3 separate regions of the Homo sapiens genome follow, and all the other regions are reported to be linked to region 3. Evidence: microRNA targets listed by miRTarBase, many of them from high-throughput screens and not tested one by one. Region 3 holds a microRNA gene; each other region holds the end of a gene's coding sequence.

The links. The annotated mature microRNA hsa-miR-1245b-3p reads UCAGAUGAUCUAAAGGCCUAUA and lies in region 3 at 2,864-2,885, shown strand. An mRNA with a match to its seed (bases 2 to 7 or 8) in the 3' UTR can be bound and repressed. Matches are read on the target gene's strand: a 7mer-m8 pairs with bases 2 to 8, a 7mer-A1 pairs with bases 2 to 7 and ends in A, and an 8mer does both.
Region 1: the mRNA of C6orf89 is a reported target of hsa-miR-1245b-3p. Seed matches in the 3' UTR shown: 7mer-A1 at 1,120-1,126 and 7mer-m8 at 2,611-2,617.
Region 2: the mRNA of EVC2 is a reported target of hsa-miR-1245b-3p. Seed matches in the 3' UTR shown: 7mer-A1 at 506-512.

Annotation. Positions count from the first base shown.
Region 1 is chr6:36,922,567-36,926,921 of GRCh38, forward strand. It overlaps C6orf89 (chromosome 6 open reading frame 89), which reads left to right. Exons shown (of 9, transcript NM_001286635.2): 9 at 781-4,355. The coding sequence ends at 875. Among named protein-coding and RNA genes, the nearest start is that of PI16, 30 kb to the right of the region's middle.
Region 2 is chr4:5,559,330-5,563,329 of GRCh38, reverse strand. EVC2 (EvC ciliary complex subunit 2) reads left to right here. Exons shown (of 22, transcript NM_147127.5): 22 at 215-891. The coding sequence ends at 482. Among named protein-coding and RNA genes, the nearest start is that of LINC01587, 37 kb to the right of the region's middle.
Region 3 is chr2:188,976,629-188,980,983 of GRCh38, reverse strand. MIR1245B (microRNA 1245b) reads left to right here and starts at 2,823; the gene lies at 2,823-2,891. All of the region lies in intron 1 of COL3A1 (collagen type III alpha 1 chain), which reads right to left. MIR1245A (microRNA 1245a) reads right to left here and starts at 2,892; the gene lies at 2,823-2,892. The region is part of intron 1 of LOC105373791 (a long non-coding RNA gene); the gene reads left to right.

The sequences.
Region 1 (4,355 bases), not on the chromosome of region 3:
AGTCAGTCGACTTTGGGAAATGCCTGTCTTGTTGATGCATAGTACATTATTAGTGTATCAAAGATGTTGAAAAGCCTTGGGGAAACCTAGTGTTTCTCAGGCTTACTTGGCCATGGAACCTATTTTCTTTGGAATATCTTACAGGACACTACTGTTTGCCAAACCCAATTTGGGCAATGCTGGTTTAGGTTTAGGTTAATCTGGATGTTCTGTAATGAAACCACATTATAGATAGACACAGGAAAATTGGCTAGTAGGTCTTGTGTCCCCTCGGAATCCATTCTGTCTTCTTGCTGTAAAAGCTGAGACTTGATGCCCAACAGCAGCCTCATCTAGAGCATCCTGCCTTTGTAAGCCTGCTGAATTGTGATTCACAGTTCCCTGGGTGAGGGGTGGTGATAAAGCATTTAAAGAGGACTGATAATAACTAGGAATACTTATGCTAGGAAGTGCCAGAAGACTTTCAGAGCAATTTGTCTTTAAGCCAGGTGTAGTGGCCCACACCTGTAATCTCAGCACTCTGGGAGGCTGAGGCAGGAGAATCACTTGAGCCCAGGAGTTCAAGACCAGCCTGGGCAATATAGTGAGACCCCTATCTCTTAAAAAATAAAAAAGGAAAGAAAAAGAAAAAAAAGGAAACTAAATTAAATAGAAAAAGATTTGTCTTTGACTCTGCAGTGCACCCTGAGGGCCAGCTCTGGCAGACCTGCCTTGCTCGTGCCCACAGGTGTGCCCACCCTCTGACATTTACATGCCTTCCTCTTGCTATTTCCCCTCAAGGCTATGTCGACACCACCCACTGGAAGGTCTACGTTATAGCCAGAGGGGTCCAGCCTTTGGTCATCTGCGATGGAACCGCTTTCTCAGAACTGTAGGAAATAGAACTGTGCACAGGAACAGCTTCCAGAGCCGAAAACCAGGTTGAAAGGGGAAAAATAAAAACAAAAACGATGAAACTGCTTTCTGGGGGTTGGTTACTTAGTTACCTGCCCTTTGCATGCATGTGTGAACCAGCTGTGAGCTGCAAGGCAGTGGCCAGAGCCTCGCCCTCCTGACTCTTCCTGCAGGTGGCTCAGGAAGGATTCAGCCTGGCCACTTGGCTAGGACTCTGCCAGCACCCATCTGAGACTGACCTCTTCCGGGCCTTTGGACACTATGACCTTGATGCTGCCCTTCAGGCAGGAAACAGGGCTGGTGCCTTTCTTCACCTGCATGGCCAGCTTCCTTCCCTGGCAGTGGAGAGGGCAGCCAACAGGTTCTAATGTCAGAGCCATCCTTTACCAGGTGGGCCTGCTTGTCCCTGTCTTGCCTGCCACATCACTCTACTTTTTGGAAGGCCATGGCTGATTAAAGAAGTTCTTGTAGTTTCCCAAGCAAAGTGGAATCTAGAAACAGTGAAAAAAGTTCAGATAACTTTGAATTGCATTCAAGAAGTACACTTCTTTCCCATTGTCCGTGGCTCTTGGAGTCTCCGTGATGCCAGGCTAGAGTCTGATTATATAATAATTCAAAATGGTAACTCCCAAGGTAATGCTTTCTTCCATTTCATCAGGTTCTTTTATCCCCACTGCACCCCCTCCCCTTCTCCCTTGCCTATCTGGATGGCTTCTCAGAAGCTCGGCCCTAGTCCTCCCTGCCTTGGCGGGGCCAGAGCCCACTACTGCTGAGGCAGCACTGCTCTCGTCAGCTGTGTTGCCTTTACCAAGTGTCTTCAGAGGGTTATGAGTTAGAGTAGCTGGCCTGGGGAGAGGGTGCCTCCCTGGGTTTGATCTTTAGGGTCTGACTTTCTGCAGAGAAGATGTTTTACAGATGTGTCAAAGCTGATGTAATGTGGTTGGGGGAGGAAATCCAGACCCAAAGTGTTTGTCAGCTGGGTGTACAACTGCCTATGTGATCCTCTGTCTTAAAATGATTTCTGTCTGTGCTGCGAAACAAAGACAAGGTGAGGTGTTTTTCTTTTTTGTAATAATATAAAGCTGTGTGTTTCTGATTGGATGATTCACTATGTGCATTGTTTTCTCCTAAGTGCTTTTAGTAGGTAGCAATCAAATGGTGTAAATAAGGATGTTCTTTTCCTGTTCCTTTTATTTTTTTCTCTCTTTATTATTCTTTTATTGACACCACTAGATAGCTGGCCACTGGTCATGCCATTGCCAAGATGAAGAAAAAGCAAACTACACTTTGGCCTCTGGTTCTGAATTGCAGAAATCAAAGGATGCAGTAGGTGTCTATGTCAGAATTATGGATCAGAGGCAGACAATGACGAGTGAAGATGGTTGTGAAGCCCTCTTCATTCCTGGAGGAGCCTGCATCTCATCTCTCAGGCCCTCTTTCTCTGTGGGTCTCATGAACAGCAGTGGGGACCATTGAGCACTTGAATGGCCTGTTTGTCTATGGGCTTGCAAAGGACAAGCAGAGTTCACAGAGCTCAGGATAGAAACATCAGAGCCTCCTCCACGGGCTTCAGTGAAACTCCGATGAACTGTACCTGAGGGAATTTTTTCTTAATCAACCCCTTGTGTGGATGAATACAGGAACAACAAAACTTGTGTACGTATGAAAGTCATGTTGTTAAGCAGTTATGATTTAAGAGGTTTTAAGTCAGAGGGATCATCTGGAGGCCGGCTTTGTGCAAGCTTTTACAGCCTTCTGCAGTGTCCTTACCCTGGCTGTACATGGGGAAGGGCTATGTGTAAACAAGTGCTTTAGAGGCCTCTGAGAGTTTTTAAAAATCAGACCCATTAACAAAAGAGAGGGTTTCTTAGGAACAAAGCAACTATTTTGATTACTGAGATCTCTGTTTTGTTTCTGTGAGTTACTCTGTATTCCTTTCCCCATTTCACTCTTGCCCTTCACATCTTAAATGTCCATAAGAAACCCTTGCATGTGTTGGTATTCTGAGGCATCCCGTGGGAAAGTCCCCTAAGTCCCATTTTGTACTTCAACAAAAAATGACTGTAGCAGAAGATAAGTGGAGACTTTTATGGATATACTACTCATTTTACTTAAAATCTACCCAGTTCAGACTTGAATGTAAACTTGTATTAGGGGAAAATTCTCCAAAGAGGGTTTTCTACATACACAGAAGCAGTTCAACTTCTCAAGTTAATTTTGATAAGCAGAATCTACTACTGGCCAGAGCGACAGGAGTGGCTAGGGGTTGCCAGCCAGTCCCTTTCTGATGATCAAGGCCCTGCACAGCAGGATGCCACAGGATGCCCCTGCCATCTAGCTGGAAGCATCAAAAGTCCCTCTGTATGACCCGGTGTGGGAAAGAGGGTTGTCAGGATGAGAAAGTGGGGCTGCAGGGTGACGATAAGACCACCTAACCAACTCCCCACCTCCACCACCACAATAAGAACAAAACTGTAGGGCTCTAAAGAGAGGGGGTGGTTTACAAGTTTATTGAGCATTTACTAGGAAGTGACATGGCGATGACCTCTGTACATGAGTTAGGTTCACTTTCATGTGGCCTCCCACTACAGAGATGCGTATGCCCAGAAGTCAGCTCTCTGAGGAGACAGGCTACTTTGGCCCCAGTTTGAAGCATTCTGTCCAAATGTCCTGAGCTCTCCAGCAGTCAAGTAGTGAATGGATACCATACTTATTATGGTTGATGAAAAAAGGCAGAGCTTATCCTCAATTTTTTTTAGGGAAGAGAAGGAATAAAATAAAAGTGGTTCAAGCTGGGCATGGTGGCTCACACCTGTAATTGCAGCACTTTGGGAGGCTGAGGCAGGCAGATCACTTGAGGTCAGGAGTTCAAGACCAGCCTGGCCAACAGGGTGAAACCCCATCTCTACTAAAAATACAAAAATTACCCAGGCGTGATGGTGGGCGCCTGTAATCCCAGCTACACAGGAAGCTGAGGCAGGAAAATTGCTTGAACCGGGGAGGCGGAGATTGCAGTGAGCCAAGATTGTGCCACTTCATTCCAGCCTGGGCGACAGAGCGAAACTCTGTCAAAGGAAAGGAAAGAAAAGAAAAAAAAAAAGAGAGAGAGAAAAGAAGAGGGGAGGGGAGGGAAAGGGAAGGGAGGGGAGGGGAGGAGAGGAGAGCAGATTGGGGGGGCTCATGTTCTGAGAGAAAGGAATAATAGCATTTGTCTAGTACATTCCAGTTTACAAAGTGCCTGATATACATGATCTCCTTTAATCTTCACCCAATCCTGTAAAGTAGGTGTTAGATCCCCATTTTGCAAGTAAATAAGTGGAGGCTTAGAGCAGTTAACCGCTGGCAGGTAGGTAGCTGGTTCCATAGCACATCATTTTCCTGCGGCATCACGGCATGGTGCCGAAGAAGACAGCTGTGGATGTCGTTGACTCAGATGTGCCTCCGTTGGGGTGGGAGAACCC
Region 2 (4,000 bases), not on the chromosome of region 3:
ATGAGCCAGGAAGAGTTGACTACAGCACACCACTGTTACAGGCTTCAGCTAATTTTACAGCAATCTGGTGACCAAGGGGGAAAATAACCTTTTGTTAAAATGGCACTGGGTTGGGGAATTCAGGACCCAAGGAGGGATTCTCTTGGAGAACTCAGAACACTCCAGAGGGTTCATTGCCAAAAATATTGAATTTGATCTTTTGCTATTTCTTTAGCATATTAAAGAAGACATGTCTCCCTCTCAGAGAGAGGATGATATTCTCTGGAAAAGGAAGTTGGCCACACCTGTCACTGGAGCCCATTGGCGAACTGGCCCCTGTACCCATTGTAGGGGCAGAAACCATTGATCTATTAAACACAGGAGAGAAGCTCTTTATATTCAGAAATCCAAAGGAGCCAGAGATCTCACTGCACGTTCCTCCCAGGAAAAAGAAGAACTTTTTGAATGCCAAAAAGGCCATGAGGGCCTTGGGCATGGACTAGCCCAAGGGAAAGACCTGCGGGAGCATCTGAAGAGAGAAGGGATGATTTTCTCCTGCCCGCCGGTGTTTGTGTGTTTATAATGCACAACTCGCAAATATAAATTGCACATGCAGAAGGCACAGACCCCGTAGCGCATGCCAACTTGCAGGGACTCGGTTTAATCTTGTCTCATGAATTTCCAGATGGCCCACTCTCTTCCATATCACAAGGACATAAACACTCCTTCTTTCAGCCCCACCTCCCCAGGGCCCTGGAGGAGACCCCCACCCTGCAATCCACACCCCATCCTCTGCTGCAGAAGCTATGGTCTGTGTGGTGACAGCCAGATTCTCTACTCTTATGTTTTGTATTTGTTACATATTCTATTTTTATAAAGGGAATTTTAAAAAATAAATGTGTTTTGCACAAAGCTGTTTATTACAAAACCCATGTTTGCTTTATGTAGGAAGCATTTATTTGAAATTACGTCTTACGTTTTGTTCCCTGTGTGGTGTTCAATAGAGAGATTCGCCCTCTATCGCTCCAGTTGCCAAAACATGTGTCAGCCCCTGGGGTCTACCGTCACCAGTTCAAATCAGGGTTATCTTCCCATTTTACAAATGAGGAAATTCAATGGTATGGAAAACTGAAGTGATTTTTACAAGATCATAAAGCTCATAAATGGCAAAATCAGGATTCACACTTCATGGCCCACAAACCTTATCCTTTCTCCTGGCCTTGATCCATGGACACATAACAGCCCTCACACAGTTACCTATAAACAGACTCCATACAAGTGCTTGTGTTTTACCAAGAGCTTGTGTAAATGCTGACCCTTCCCATCCACACAGCAGTGCCTGAGGCCAGTAATATCTCACTGGGGCTGGGCCACATCATGGTGTCAGCCGGGCAAATAATACAATTACAATGGGTATTCTCTGACAGTAGGGGATGATTAGGATGAGAGTCCTCTCACCAGCAAGGGAAAAAAGCGATGACTGATAAAAAATCAAACATCTGTCATATGAGAGTTGCTGCTAGACCCTTCCAACAACTTTAACCTACTTTTTAATGATCACTAGTACCCCAGCAAGGTGAGTATCCCTATTCCCATTTTACTGCCAAGGAAGCTGAGACTCAGAGTTTAAATAATTTGCCTATGATGAAACCACCTATATGGGAGGAATCCTCAATTTGAACCTGAGTCTTCTAACTAAAATGCTTATCTGCCATGGATGTCCCTTTTCCATGGGCAACCAGAAGACCAAGTCTTATTTGCAGTTTCCCATCAGCATGCATGCAGCACCCCAACAAGTACCTTCGCTGGGGTTGCACTTCTCCCAGGGGACAGCAGCTGTGCACCGTTTTCAGCTGCCACTTGACTGCATGACTGCATTGGTAGAAAGGTGCAGGTAAGCAGTTTGAATGCAGGAGAGAAGAGATGATGGCGCCAGTTTTCCCATCCATCAGAAGGTCCAGTGGGCCTCGAGTGAGAACAGAGAAAGTGGAGTGATTTTTACACACAGGACAGCAGAGTGGAGCATGCATGGTCTTGGGAATAAGCAGACTGGAGTTCAAATCCTGCTCCACTACTTAAGGGCCATAAGTTCTTGGGCAAGTAGATATAATTGAATCTGTAAAGTCCACCACATCTATGTTCTTCTCTACCTTTTTAAGGTAATTGTCTGCATTTCTGATAATTTCCTGCTTCTACAGGGGCTCTGATAGAATTATGCATAGTTGAAAGTAGATTGCATGCAAAAATTTCAAAAAATGGCTTAAAATTATAGGCTGAAGCCTGATTGAAGAGGCTGTTAGCAACAGCAGGAGGTGCCCAAGCTGCTCAAAATCTAGCATTTGAACCTAATAATAACTCCTTATGTTAATAGACAGAGAAAGACTAACTGCTGATTTACCTTTTGTAAACTCACTGCACAAAAAAATGCCAAGATGTGTTGGGGAAAGCCTGTGTTTCTGGAATCAGATAGACCAGGTTTAAACTGTGGCTCTACAACTTTTTAGCAGTCATTTTACCACTCTAAACTTCAGTCTCTTTATCTGTAAAACAAAGATCCTAATGTCGTACTTTACAGTAGGGACGTTGTAAAGAGTGAAGATACTAGATATTATGTCTGTAATGTCTGATGAAATGTTGGTGTGCAATAAGGTAGCTTATTTATTTTATTATATTTTAACATCTTTACAAAAATCCATCTGATATGGTTTGGCTCTGTGTCCCCACCCAAATCTTGCCTTGAATTGTAATCCTTATAATCCCCACGTGTCAAGGGCAGGACCAGGTGGTGGTAATTGGATCATGGGGGCGGTTTCCCCTGTACTGTTCTCGTGAGTGAGTCTCACGAGATCTGATGTTTTATAAGTATCTGGCATTTCCCCTGCTGGCAGTCCTTCTCCTTCCCACTGCCCTGTGAAGAAGGTGCTGTTCTTCCGCTTCGCCTTCTGCCATGATCGTAAGCTTCCTGAGGCCTTCCCAGTCATGTGGAACTGTGAGTCAATTTAACCTCTTTTCTTTATAAATTACCCAGTCTCATGTATTTCCTTACAGCAATGTGAGAATGAAGTGTTCTTTCATTCCTTTTGCCATTCTAGGTGAAGGCTGTTTTCTTGAAGGGCTGTATCTTCACACAGAAGCCTACTCATGAGAGAGAAGCTCCAAGGAACTTGGCTTGAGAGGACTTGAGCTCAAGTTTGGGGTTTGTTACTTACAAGCAGGGGCTCGGCTCCCTGTGTATTCTGTCTTTAAGGAGTTCGATCTAGTTGCGTTGACTAACACAAAAATAAATAATTGGTAAATGCAAGGTGTGAGACGCACATACGAAAATCCTGCCGTGGGAATTTGGGAGTGAGGTCAAACCTGGCAGGGGTCAGTTGGGGACAGCTTTGTGCTTACGACTCCCCCAGATTTCCACACTGCAGTCTTTGTAAGGAAGTCACTATGAGCAGCACACATTTAAGGAATGGGGACATAAGTCTACCTCCTTGAGGGCAAAGTGTCTACATAGATTATTTGGAATTCTGCATGGGAGATGATCTCTTTTCCATTTATTTTTTCAATTATTTATTTCTATCGGTATAGACTCATGGATATTTATTTTATACTTTGAGTTATAATCCAATAATAATTTGTTGCTCTAATTGTTCCAGCTTTCAACATTGGGAGCTCTTTCTGTTGTCTCCCATATCCCTTTAACATAACCCCGTCAGTGCAGATTTTTATGTTTTTCCGAGTACTTCCTTATTTTCTGGCACTAGAAGGTGGTCTAAAAGGTGAGCATTATAAAAGATGAGCACTAGAAAAGATTCGCATCGTTTATATTCCCTGTCCCAGTCCTAGAATCAGACATTTCTCCAAGGAGTCTGATTCCTTTTGTTGGAGAATGGTATTAGAAACTAAACTCTGAGCCCTAGTTGTGCTTATTGCTACTGGAGTATTGTTACTTCTAGGCCTCTAAGCTGACAGAGCAAGAAAATATACATGTACATACTAACCTGTTTATATACACATGTCCGTTAATATT
Region 3 (4,355 bases):
TTTTCTCTTCTTACTAAATCCTTATCTGGGAAAAGATGTTGTATAATCTGAAAATCTAAGAATCACAGATATGATATATAAATTATCATAATTATTTTCATTACTTTAGAAAGCTGAATATTTTGTACATGTGGGTATTTGGCATTCATATAGTTTCCAATTGAAATAATGTTTGGTTTGCCTTTTAAATGATATTGTTTGGAAAACATAAATTTTAATAAAATATTTTTTCTGCTGCTTATGTATTTATCAGAGTATCTTAAAATATGTTAGATTACTTAACAAAAAGGACTCTGAAGAAAGTATCTGTAGACATTCTAGGTGAATAATTTTAATTTAAAAGCACTGTTTTGCATAGAAAATAAGATTTTATTTATTCTTGCTACCTCCAGGAAAAAAAGTTGATAAATTATCATTTGTAGATATTTTCTTGTTTCATATTTTATAGATATATGCTTTTTCAATCTCCTTAGAAATGTCCTTTAAGTTGATTAATCTTTTAGAATTCAATTAATCTTTTAGAATTGTCTAAAAGATTAATCTTTTAGAATTGTCTAAAAGATTAATCTTTTAGAATTGTCTAAAAGATTAATCTTTTAGAATTGTCTAAAAGATTAATCTTTTAGAATTCAATCTCCTTAGAAATGTCCTTTAAGTTGATTAATATTTTATCCTGTTAAAAATAAAAATAATTAGATAATTAGAAAATTTTAAGTATCATATATCTAACCACCAGCAATTGCATATATAATAAAATCTTCTTAGTGTCAAATTATAAAAACATTGAAGAGAATATATTCTACTTGTCTTATTACATTTGGCAAACAACTTTAAATTGTATAGTCTTATAAATAAAATTTTACATTTCACCATCCTTATCACTAAGTTACTAAGTACTTTAATTTCTTCCTTAGAGTAATTTTATTTGCCAGCGTTAGTAAAACTAGTGCTATAGTACCTCCTATCTTGTAGGGACTGCTCTGAGTAGTTTGAATATCTATTTTGCTTCATACTCCCAAAGGCCTTATGAGCTTACAGCTGTCATAATCCTAATTTTACAGATGAGGAATCTTAACTGCAGAAACATTAAGTAATTTTCCCAAGGTTACACAGTCAGGGTGAAAAAGAAGATCTGAGTGTAAGAAGGCTTTCTCTAAATTTGATACTCTTAATTACTGCATTCTATTTTCTTTCTGCTATTTCAAAACTGAGTACGATTAAAGAAGCCAACTCCAAAGCTCTGTCCCATATGATTTTTTATCCCTGCAAGGTTAAAATCTGAATCTAGATAGGTATATTTTGAAGGACAACAGTTCTTTGCAAAATATTTTTCTATCTGGCCTCAAAACAGGAAGATGCCATCTGGAGTTAAATTCTCCTGTTTATTTTCTCTTGACCTTATGAAGAAGGGTTATATCTCTAAAGCTACCCTGATGACATCCAGACCACCAACAGAATAAATGTGTGACTCAGAAACCCTGCATACATTTTGCTATATACAAAAAAGTAGGGTTCTAACAACAATAGTACCAGACAGAAAAGACTTCTGCATCCAATGCAAAAATATGTTTAAGATGTCTCATTAACACACTGTTTTTCAGAAAATATAGTTACTAAATGATTCATGTTAATATACATCTAAGTTCATCAGAAGTTTTCACTGAATGAAACTGGAACGTTGTGAACATGCTATGCAACTCCAAAGAGTATTTCTGTGATTTTAATTTACTTGAGAAATGCAGTCTCTGTCATCCTCCACACAAAATACTATAGAAAAACAGTTTCAGAAAAATATATGCCATTTTACTGAAGCAGTACTTTCTTAATACTAGAATTCAAGGGAAGTTTAACTTTTAATAATTTCTGGATCTTTTCTCTTTGATGTTTACATCTTTTGGGCATTTTGACTCGTCCTCTTTCAACGTTTCATTTTGTTCATTAAGACTACATTTTAAACAGCAGTGCTTGACCTCAGTCATGGAAAAAAACAAGGGTTTTATTAGTTAATCTGAAAGGAATCCACTTCTGCTGTGTTTTCATTAGACACAGACTGAAACTCTGGTGGTTAATGTAACTCCCCCAACTGCAGTTCACAAATGATTTATGTAAGAATAGCTATCTCATTTTTTCCGTTGTCATCTTGACATGAAACAGGCAAAGTTTCCCCTTTGAAAAGTCTGGAGAGTTTTTTTTTACACTATATGATCTTTTTTTTTTTTTTTTTTTTGAGTGTGGAAACAATGGGATTGAGCTTTTATCTTAGGGAAAACTTTTACAAGAAACAGTTCACTGAGAGGGTTCCAGAAAGTTATTGTAGACCTGGAAACTTTACAACTGTTCCTCATGTCCAGCAAAAGCAATAACATCTTTCATCTTTAAAGCTTTAATTCTTTAAGCAATCTACTTTAATCACTTCAAGGCGGTGATATCATTAGATGTTACAAAATTAAAGAGCTGGGCTACATAATTTTTGGAACTCTGCACCAAAGAAGCCATTCACAATGGAAACTGTGGAGTTTCGGTAGATGGCACTCTTTTCTCTGAGTGACAACTCAAGGTCCAGCATGTGACCGTAGATGTAGAACAGGGGCTTTCCTGAGGAGCTGTCCTTTAGCCTCAACTATAATCCTGGTAAACTCACAGCCAATCATTCTTGATTTTTAAAAAGAAGCCTGTAGATAAGACATCAATCCAGGAATCTGAAGTAGTTAAGAGGCATTTAATCACAGTCTTTCCTTCTTTCCCAGAATTGTTCCAGTGGATTTGCTTTCTTTTCTTGTAATGCTGAAATGTTTAATTCCAGAATTTAATAAAAATACCTTTTTATATGTAGGCCTTTAGATCACTTAAAGAGTATTCAACATCAGATGATCTAAAGGCCTATACATAAATAGGTAGTTTTGAAAATCCAAATTTTTCAAGGCTCTGTTATTACCTGAGCATTTTTCTTTCCCTAGAAAAAAAGCTCAGGTAAGTAAATACAAGGTATCATGGATGAAAAACACAAAGTGTTATAATACTTTATTTACTCACACAGAACTGGTGATAATTTCTTTTAAAATGATAAGATCCTGAGCTTCTGGGGTTTAAAAAAATTAACGTACTACTCTCTATAAAATTGAATATTAAACAGAAAAATACCTATTCTTTTTTCACCTTTAGAAATGCATTATTAGTTCATGTACTTTCTAGGACGATATATAATTTTTTTAGTATCTCCTTTCAATGACAAATAGTTACAAAATTAAGAAAATTCAAATATCTGATTTTAATGTGTATTCTATAATTATCTAAGACTGAACAGAATATTGGTCCTAGCCTTGACTCCGTCATTTTCTAGTTTTGTAATCTCAAATAAAGCACTGATCCATGTTAGGTGACTGACACTGAGATATGTGAGCAACTATGCATTCTCTCCCTTTAAAAGTGCAATTGTTCCTAAATGTATGTAACCTTTTCCTGTTAGTTCAGTGTGTTTAATTGTAGGGACAAACACAAACCAGAAAACTTGAATGTTACCTGAGCAAGTTACAAATTCCCTCTTAAAGCATAATGAAAAAAATATACTCTCATGACGTCTAATAAGAAACTGATTCTCTGAGTCCATTTACAGTTTTAAAATTCTAAAACAACTAGAGGCCTACAGTTTATTTTACTGGAATTATCACTGTAGCAAAATATAGAAACTCAAACATTAGTACACATTTAATTAAAATAAAGTTTCTGTTTCTGCCCTAATGGAGCAGTATTACTTAGTAACAGCTGTCTATAATCTATCTAACAATTAAGCAGTGAATAAAATACTTATGTCAAATAAGGACTACATCAGAGACATGAAAAATGTATTTAAACAATAGTCATATGTAGAATTTTTAAGTGGCCGTAACATTTAAGCTAATTTCCAAAAAGACTCTGAATATTGTTACCATTGTGTTTTCGTGTCAGTATATGTGTTTGCAATATTTATCCGTAACATACTAATTTCCTTAGGAGAGCAGTGTTAACATTTAAAATTCACGCATATGAATTTTTTAAAGCTCATTATAAACTACCAAAGCCAGCTACATAACATTAATATTGGCATTCGTTATGTAAATGGTAACCTGGCTTGTCAGCCACTAGGTGACGCATCTTTGTACTTAAAACTTGGCATGTTTATAATCTACAGGAAATATAAAACAGACTATGTTTCTCCATTGGTGGATTAAAACACATGAATTAAATACAATGTTCACAAATTTGTAAGACGACCAAAATTCTTTTTGAGGACTTGTTTGTATCCAGAAAATGCCTGTGAGTGAACTAGAAGTGAGTGTTCATTAGAGCTGTGCCGTCTCTGAAGTTATGAGGGCATA